Linked DNA regions of Homo sapiens: region 2 is linked to region 1. Evidence: fine-mapped expression QTL. A gene starts in region 1. The other region holds a variant in brackets. All regions are shown on one strand. Distances are from middle to middle.

Region 1 (4,000 bases):
TGTATTTTTAGTAGAGACGGGGTTTCACTGTGTTAGCCAGGATGGTCTCGATCTCCTGACCTCGTGATCCGCCCACCTCGGCCTCCCAAAGTGCTGGGATTACAGGCGTGGGCCACCACACCCGGCCTACTGCCTACCATTTTGCCCAAGCTTCCCAGTACTGAGAAGAACCACCTCCTGTGTCCCCTGCACCTGTCCCAGTTCCATGTCCCTCCAGAACCCTTCTGTGAGCCTCTGCATGGAATGAGAAGAGGAATTTTAAGCCAAGGATCTGGGGGGTCGCCGTGGACACAGTACCATATTCCCTGCTCCCACTTGAGATCCCTGGCACCCAGCCTCCTTTTCACATCCAGCCCCTCAGGGACCTCTGACCTTTGAGCTCGGCTTCAGTGCCAGGCGGGCAGTCAGAAAGTAGCTCGCAGTGTGTACACTCGAGGGCCCAGGCAGCACAGAACATTCCCGGCTGGCAGCGGCACTGGGTCTTCCGTTTGCTTGTGCAGGGGGCAATCTCCTCGAGGCCCATCACTGGCGGGGAGACGGGAGGGCTCAGGGAGGGGCCAAGCTCCAGGGGATCCAGCCCCCCCGCAGGCACATCCCCACTCACCTGGGTCACAGGGGCGGCACAGCTGGCAGATGGTCAGGTAGTTCCAGTGCTCGTTGTAGGAATTCTCGGCACATGTGGCACAAACTGTGTCCCGGATGCGGCTACATTTAGCTGAGACATAGGTGCCTAGAACGTGAGTGGAGCAGTAGAGCCTCAGGAGACGAGGCTCCACCCTCACCTCCGCTGCCTGTAGTGTGACCCTGGCCTTTCCCTCGGTCTCTCTGGCCCCCCATCATCCTGCCAGTGGCCCTCCGGCTCCCTCTCAGTGAGGTAAGGAAAGAGGAGGCCCAGTGGGGAGGGCCAGTCCCATCTCCTCCACGTGATGTCCAGGGTTTCCCACGCTCGTCTCCAGCAGCCAGTTTTCCTGGGGGACAGTGCCCACCTTCCCTCTGAGGCCGCGAGGGGGCTGGAGCCCCCGTGACCCACTTCCGAGGCCCAGGTTCGTCCTGCCATTGCCTCTCACCTGGCGGGCAGCGGGAGCAGCAGATGCGGTGCTGGGGCTCATAGTATTCCTTTTCCTGGTCCCTGCAGGTCTGGTTCTCCGACGCATATGGAGGCACCTTCAAAGGGAGATGGAGAAGAGGAGAGAAGAATTAGTCAGGGGTCAGCTTGGGAGGGCAGAGGGAATGGAGCGACGGCTGCCCAGATCCCTCTTGCCCACCCTCGCCCACTCCTACCAGGCCCCTTCCTCACCGCCTGGGGCTGCGATGCTGCCAGGAGCCCGAAGAGGCCCAGCACCAGAGGCCCCCAGGCCAGGCCGGGGGCAGAGGTGGCCCAAGGCAGGAGCATGGCGGCCACTCGGCCAGGCGGCCAGCAACGTGGGGGCCTGGGAGGAAGGCAGGAGGCCCGACGTCCTGGGCAGCGGTGGCGGCGGCTGCCCGAGCCCAGAGCCTGGGACGGGACTCAGGGCCGATGTGCACCCCAGGGCCGGGAGCGGCCAGGCCGGGCCTCCAGGGCTCCCATGGCGGAGCTCAGGAAGTGGGAGTGGAGCGAGCTGGCCGCGGGGCGGGGACAGGGAGCGCTGGGAGCCAGGCCGGCCTGTCGCAATCGCAGCCCAGGGAAGAGGAACAGGCTTGTCTGCCTCGATGCGGGGCGGGAGGGGCGGCCGGGAAAGCACGTGAGGGCCGCGGGGCCGGAACCGGCCTCCTCCCTTCTTCGGAAGCCCGATCGGGAGAGCGGACTGCGGACAGCCCTGGCCCAGCCGAGGGAAGGGCGGCGGGCCCGGGGTCAGCCCTTGGACAAGCCTCGCAGGGAGAGCAGAGGGAGTTCCAGAGAGCGCAAGGGACAGCTGGGTGCGGGATCTGGAAAGCGAGGGGCCCAGGACGGGCAGTCATGGAGAGGGCAGGGCGCGGGGACTGCAAGGCCGCAGAAGCAGCTCTGAGACCGAGGAGAACCGGCTGGCAGATGCCCGGGTTCCTCCCCCGTTGTCCTGCCCTACTGTGGGAGTTTTTCAGACAAATTACAAGGGACTAGCAAATCAGCCAGCCCCCCACGCTACCAACCCAGCCCAATCCGCACAGGAGTGGGCACAGGTCACCTAGGAGACCCTTGAGAGCTGTGCAGCTTGCCCTGCTCCCTGTCCTCAGGGAACCTCCCTCCCAAAGAGAGGGGGAGGATATGCGGAGGGGAGTCCTGGGGCCAGCAGGCTGGACCTGGGCACTCAGTCCCTCTGCTCTGGCTTCTTTGCCCATGAACCTTCAAACCCCTTAGAACTGGAGAAAGCTGAGAGCCCACGCAGTCCAGCCCCCTCACCTTAAGCATGGAGAGGGAGGCTAAGGGTGATACATAAGGGAACCGGGATTCCAGGGTGGCCTGGTCTCGTTCCTGCCCTGTTTCATCCTCCCATCTCCCTCAACCCAACACCCCACCCACCCGTGGAGTTACTTGCAGCTGCCCCCTTTTACACGTGGTTCTCTGGTCCCCAAGTTTCCGTCTTCCTAACTCCCACCTGTCCTTGAGGCTTCACTGAGGCTCTGGAAGGCAACCTCTGCCCTAGGTTGCACAGTCCCCGTGAAGACTGCCCTCTGTACCTGGCTGTCTTGTTTGCTTCCCACCAGGCTGTGAGTGCCACCATGGCCCAGGCTGAATCTTCAAGTCTGTGTTCCCCATGCTTAGCAGAGTCTGGCACATACCATGTGCCCAATAGGTATTTATGGAATAAATGAGTGATGGCCACATCACAGAGCCAGTCCACCGCAGAGCCAGCTACAATCTGGGTCTCCTGATGTCTAGGTCCCAACTCATTCCAGCAGTCCTGCCAACTCCTTGTGGCTCAGGGATGTCTCCCTTGGGATGAGGGGCTAACCTCTCTTGAGATAGGTCACTTGGGCACTATCCCCCTCCCTGAAGGACTCTGTTCAGCACTCGTCCTTACACTGGTCTGTCTAACTTCAGGTCTGATGTCTGGACAGGTGCAGGTGATGGGAAGTGTGCATGGGGAGGAGAGGTCACAAAAGGGGGAAAGGACCTGCCTAGGCTGTAGGCATTTCACTCTGTGAGGCTCTCTCCCCTCACCTGGTGCAGGCAGCTCACCGTACAGATGGGCCAAAGATGGCTGGAAAGGGCAGAAGTATCAGAACAGCATGCACTGCGCGGGGCTGCTGAGCCTTCCAGGGCCCTAGCGCTGGGGGCTGGGATGAGAGTCCCTGCTGAGCTCTTAAACGCGTAAAGGAATGTGTGTGTAGCGACCCTAGGTCCTTTTTTCTCTCTCTTCTTTTTACTTTTTACTGTGGAAATTCCACATGCAAGATAATATACCAAAAGAGAAAAAGTAATATTGGGAGTCTCCCATATACTCCTTACCCAGCTTCAACTCACTGTCAGTTTCATTTATTCTGTATACCCCCTCCCCCACCAACGCACACACTCTTCAAATCCCTCATTATTATTTTGAAGTAAATCCCAGACATCATATCATTTCATTTGAAAATATTTCAGGATTTTACCCTAAAAGACAGGGACTCTTTCTCTATTCTATTTTTCTTTTTTTCCCCACCCTGTCTTATGCTGCTGAGACCCTTTCTTTTAATAGAGGTGTAACATATAATACAATGAAACCGTAAGGTACACTGATCTTACAGATACAGCTCAGAGAGTCTTCACTTTTGTGTATTCTTGCATATCCCCCAACTGGTCCAGAACACCTCTTCTCTTCTCTTCTTTTCTCTTTTCCTTTCCATACAGAGTCTCGCTTTGTCGCCCAGGCTGGAGTGCAGTGGTGCAATCTCGGCTCACTACAACCTCTGCCTCCCAGGTTCAAACAATTCTCTGCCTCAACCTCCCGAGTAGCTGGGATTACGGGCGCCTGCCACCATGCCTGGCTGATTTTTGTATTTTTAGTAGAGATGGGGTTTCGCCATGTTGACCAGGCTGGTCTTGAACTCCTGATGTTGTGAT
Region 2 (4,513 bases), 49 kb before region 1:
ACCTCTCCCTCCTGGGTTCAAGCGATTCTCCCGCCTCAGCCTCCAGAGTAGCTAGGATTACAGGCATGCGCCACCACGCCCAGCTAATTTTGTATTTTTAGTAGAGACAGGGTTTCTCCATGTTGTTCAGGCTGGTCTCAAACTCCCGATGTCAGGTGATCCGCCAGCCTTGGCCTCCCAAAGTGCTGGGATTACAAGCGTGAGCCACCGTGCCCTGCAAGCCCAGCTAATTTTTGTATTTTTTGTAGAGATGGAGTTTCACCATGTTCCCCAGGCTGGTCTCGAACTCTTGAGCTCAAGTGATCTGCCCACCTTTGCCTCCTAAAATGCTGGGATTACAGGTGTGAGCCACCGTGCTGGGTGGCTGGGCCATTCTTGCTCTTCTGAGTGACTTCCCTTGCTCACCAGATGAGGGAAATGGCTCATGGAGCCAGTCTGGTGATCCTCCCTGTGGCGGGGAGGGAGGCACGCCCCACTTTCCCCAGCTGTTTCTGAGCCTCATGACTGTGAGCCCTGAGAGGGACCTAAGACCTTTGTTTCCCCTGCTAGTCCGTGGTGCGGTGTCTGAGCCTGAGCTCTTAGGGCAGCTTCCTTCCTAGGGCCGTGCTGGAGCCTGCTAGTACTGCCTAGCCAAAGCCCGATCCTTACATTTTCAGGAATTTTGTGAGGTTACTCGTTGGTAGCTTGAAATTGGCCAGCTGGCCATAGTAGGAATACTTACAACCACATACATCAGCAAACGCCATAGATCAAGGGCTTCCCACTCCGAGAGCTGGCTGTTAACCACCGCACCACCACTACTGACTTACTGGGGTGAGGCCCAGTCATTACTTTTAGTCATTTTTTGGGTCTTGGAGAGACAGAGTTCTTTCCTATCTGGGCTCCTGTCCCCTCCTCCTGGCTTCTAGGTAGAAGGTCCTGTGGGCCTATGGGGAGCCCCCATCTTACTGCTCCAGCCAGCTTAGGATTTCAAGCCAGCAGGGCTGGAAAATGATTCCAACCTTCGGCTTTACCCTCTCACTCTACAGCTATCAGAACCGTGGGGTGCAGAGGTGAAATGACTTTCCCTGTGTGGCAGAGCTGGGAGAGAACCCAGGTCTCCTGAACCCCAGTCTACTGTTGACGAGCCCCTACAGAGTGGACGCCTCAAAGGTGCTCATTTCCTGTGCCGATCTGACTGTGTACTCACAGTACCTTCCATGCTCAGCCTGCAGGCATGGCTCAGCCGCCCTTCCTGCCTGTCTTCTTCTGGTCTCATAGACCGTTCCCTGCCCTTTCACTCTATGAGCCCATCCCAACTGCTTTCTCTTCTTTTTTAAAATTGAAATTTAATTATAAAAGCAATATTCATATCACCTCCTTATAAAAAATTAAACCAGCAAAATCCATCATTTTCATCAGTAGGTAAATGCACTAAGAGTGCTTGTACCTGTGCCCCAGGAGACATATGCAAAAATATTCAAGCACTACTGTTTGTAATTCCAAAAGAAAAAGCAAGCAAGCAAGCAAGCTGCTGTGGTGTCTCACACCTGTAATCCCAGCACTTTGAGAGATGGAGGCGGGCAGATGGCTTGAGCCCAGGAGTTTGAGACCAGCTTGGGCTACACGGCAAACCCCCATCTCTACTAAAAATACAAAAATTAGCCGGGCGTGGTGGCACATGCCTGTAGTCCCAGCTACTCTGGAGGCTGAGGCATAAGAATAGCTTGAACCTGAGAGGCGGAGGTTGCAATGAGCCGAGATCGCGCCACTGCAAAAGAAAGGAAGAAAAGAAAGGAGAAGGGAGGAAGGGAGGAAGGAAGGAAGGAAGGAAGGAAAAAGAAAGAGAAAGAAAGAAAGAAAGGAAGAAAGAAAGAAAGAGAAAGAAAGAAAGGAGGAAAAGAAGGGAGGGAAGGAGGGAGGAAGGAAGGAGAGAACGGTAGTTGGATAATAAATTGTTGTATATTCACCCAATGGAATGCTTTAGAGGAATGAATATGAACCACCTGCATGTAGCCATGTAGATTAATTTGCATGAATGTCAAAAATATAATATTGTACATCGTGAATGTACTTCATGCCCCCTGAATTATACATTTAAAAATAGTTTAAATGGTAAATTTTATGTATATTTTACCACAATATAAATAAATAAATAGATAGAAAAACATGTTAAGTGATAGTGCACAAACACACAGAAGCAAGGCATAGAAAAGTACATACGATTCCATTTATAAAGTTCAAAAACAGGCAAAATGAAGCAGTTTGCTGTTCAGGGTGCACACAGATGGTAGAACTAGAAAGGAAAGTGAGGAAGTGATAGACACAAGCCAGAGCTGCTTCCCCCGGTGAGGAGGGAAGGTGTGA[T/C]CAGGGCGCTTCGAAGGTTCTACTAATCTTCTGATCTGAACGTGGGTTTTCAATGTGTTATTTTTATGTACTATTTTACATATCTTAGTTCACAATAAAAAGTACAAATTATATTTTAAAAATTGGAGGTGAAAATGAAAAAAAATGGAAAATTATAGAGAAGACTCAGGTTCCCTTTGATCAATCTCCTCCCCCAATCCCTGGTCCTCTCCCTACCTCCTTAGTGTAGGCACTGTTTTCAGATTATTGAGTATTCTTCCAGAACTTTCCTAGACAAAAAAGTTATGTGTGTTGTTGTGGGTGTTTTTTGTTTTTTGTTTTTGTTTTTGTTTTTTGACAGAGTCTCTGTTGCCAAGGCTGGAGTGCAGTGGCACATTCTCAGCTCACTGCAGTCTCCACCTCCTGGGTTCAAGTGATTCTCCTGCCTCAGCCACCCAAGCAGCTGGGACCACAGGTGTGCACACCCGGCTAATTTTTGTATTTTTAGTAGAGATGGGGTTTCACCATGTTGGCCAGGCTGGTCTTGAACTCCTGACCTCAATTGATCCAGCTGTCTCAGCCTCCCACAGTGCTGAGATTACAGGCATGAGCCACTGTGGTAGGCATATGTTTATGTTTTTAAAAATTATTTTCTTTCCTTCTTATTTTTTGAGGTGGAGTCTCGCTCTTGTTGTCCAGGCTGGAGTGCAATGGCATGATCTCGGCTCACTGCAACCTTCACCTCCTGGGTTCAAGCAATTCTCCCATCTCAGCCTCCCGAGTAGCTGAGATTATAGGCGCCCCCCACCACATCTGGCTAATTTTTATATTTTAGTAGACATAGGGTTTCACCATGTTGGTCAGGCTGGTCTTGAACTCCTGACCTCAGGTGATCCGCCCATCTCGGCCTCCTGAAGTGCTGGGATTATAGGCGTAAGCCACTATGCCCGGCCTGTTTGTTTGTTTGTTTGTTTTTGTTTTTGTTTTGAGACAGAGTCTCGCTCTGTCACCAGGTTGGAGTGCAATAGCATGATCTTGCCTCACCGCAACCTCCGCCTCCCAGGTTCAAGCGATTCTCCTGCATCAACCTCCCGAGTAGCTGGAATTACAGGTGCATGCCACCATGCCCAGCTAATTTTTGTATTTTTAGTAGAGATGGGGTTTTGCTATGTTGGCCAGGATGGTCTCGATCTCCTGACCTCGTGATCCACCTGCCTCAGCCTCCCAAAGTGCTGGGATTACAGGCGTGAGCCACCACGCCCGGCCAGCCTGTTTTAAAAAATTATTTTATTTTCTACTTAAAATGTTATTAAGCAATAATCAAATATTTCTTACTCTGATTTCTTGGCCCCACTCCTCCTGAGGATTCTCTGCTTGAATTTTTCAGAGCAAGGGCGACCCCTGTCTTAGGAGAGGTAGGAGAGTGCCTCATGGACAGCATCTGGTTGTTCCTTCTCCCTGGCAAGGGGCCTGCCTCTCTTTTTCATACCTGAGATGACCGACAGCAGTAACATCTGACTTTGTCTTTTCCTTTCTTATTTGGGGCATCGCAGGCTACCTATATTTGCTGAAGGAAATCTTACACAAAGCTGCGATAATTCTAGCACAGAGCAAGAAATAGAGCCTAAGGAACAAACCACCCATTTTCTCTCCACTCGGTAAAAAATTATCTCTGGGAAATGAAATAGCCCAAGTCTGGCAGTTCCATGTTCTTCTTCTTTTTGTGTTTTAGAGACAGCCTTGCTTACTCACCCAGGCTGGAGTGCAGTGGCACAATCATGGCTCACTGTAGCCTCGAATTCCTGGGCTCAAGAGATCTTTCTACCTCAGCCTCCAGAGTATCTAGGACCAGAGGTGCACACTACCACGCCTGACTGATTTTTAATTTTATGTAGAGACTGGGTCTCTTTATGTTTCTCAGGCTGGTCTCAAATTCCTGGCCTCAAGAAATCCTTCCACCCCAGCCTCTCAAAGTGCTGAGATTACAGGCATGAACCACTGCCCCTGGTCCATGTTCTTCTTATATTGCTTTTCTAAAGTACTTCTTTTTGCAGATAGAGAAAGGCTTGTTAACTGGCCTCATGACTCAGCCTGCCAGGCACAATTGTCCATCGGCCCCAGCACAGTTGTATTTTTGTGTTTGTTTTGTTCTTTCCATAAATGATATACAGTATGTATCCTACGATTT

What was found. PIP is the estimated chance that this variant, and not a neighbour inherited with it, causes the effect.
Region 2: its variant is the best candidate, but not a certain one, in a credible set for the expression of LTBR in whole blood (TOPMed, PIP 0.53).

Annotation. Positions count from the first base shown.
Region 1 is chr12:6,381,752-6,385,751 of GRCh38, reverse strand. LTBR (lymphotoxin beta receptor) reads right to left here and starts at 1,590. Exons shown (of 10, transcript NM_002342.3): 1 at 1,298-1,590; 2 at 1,068-1,164; 3 at 605-730; 4 at 373-525. The coding sequence starts at 1,393. RefSeq lists an enhancer at 1,672-2,537.
Region 2 is chr12:6,430,992-6,435,504 of GRCh38, reverse strand. No RefSeq gene overlaps it. Among named protein-coding and RNA genes, the nearest start is that of CD27, 12 kb to the left of the region's middle. RefSeq lists an enhancer at 597-1,097. The variant T/C (reference allele first, on the strand shown) is at 2,347.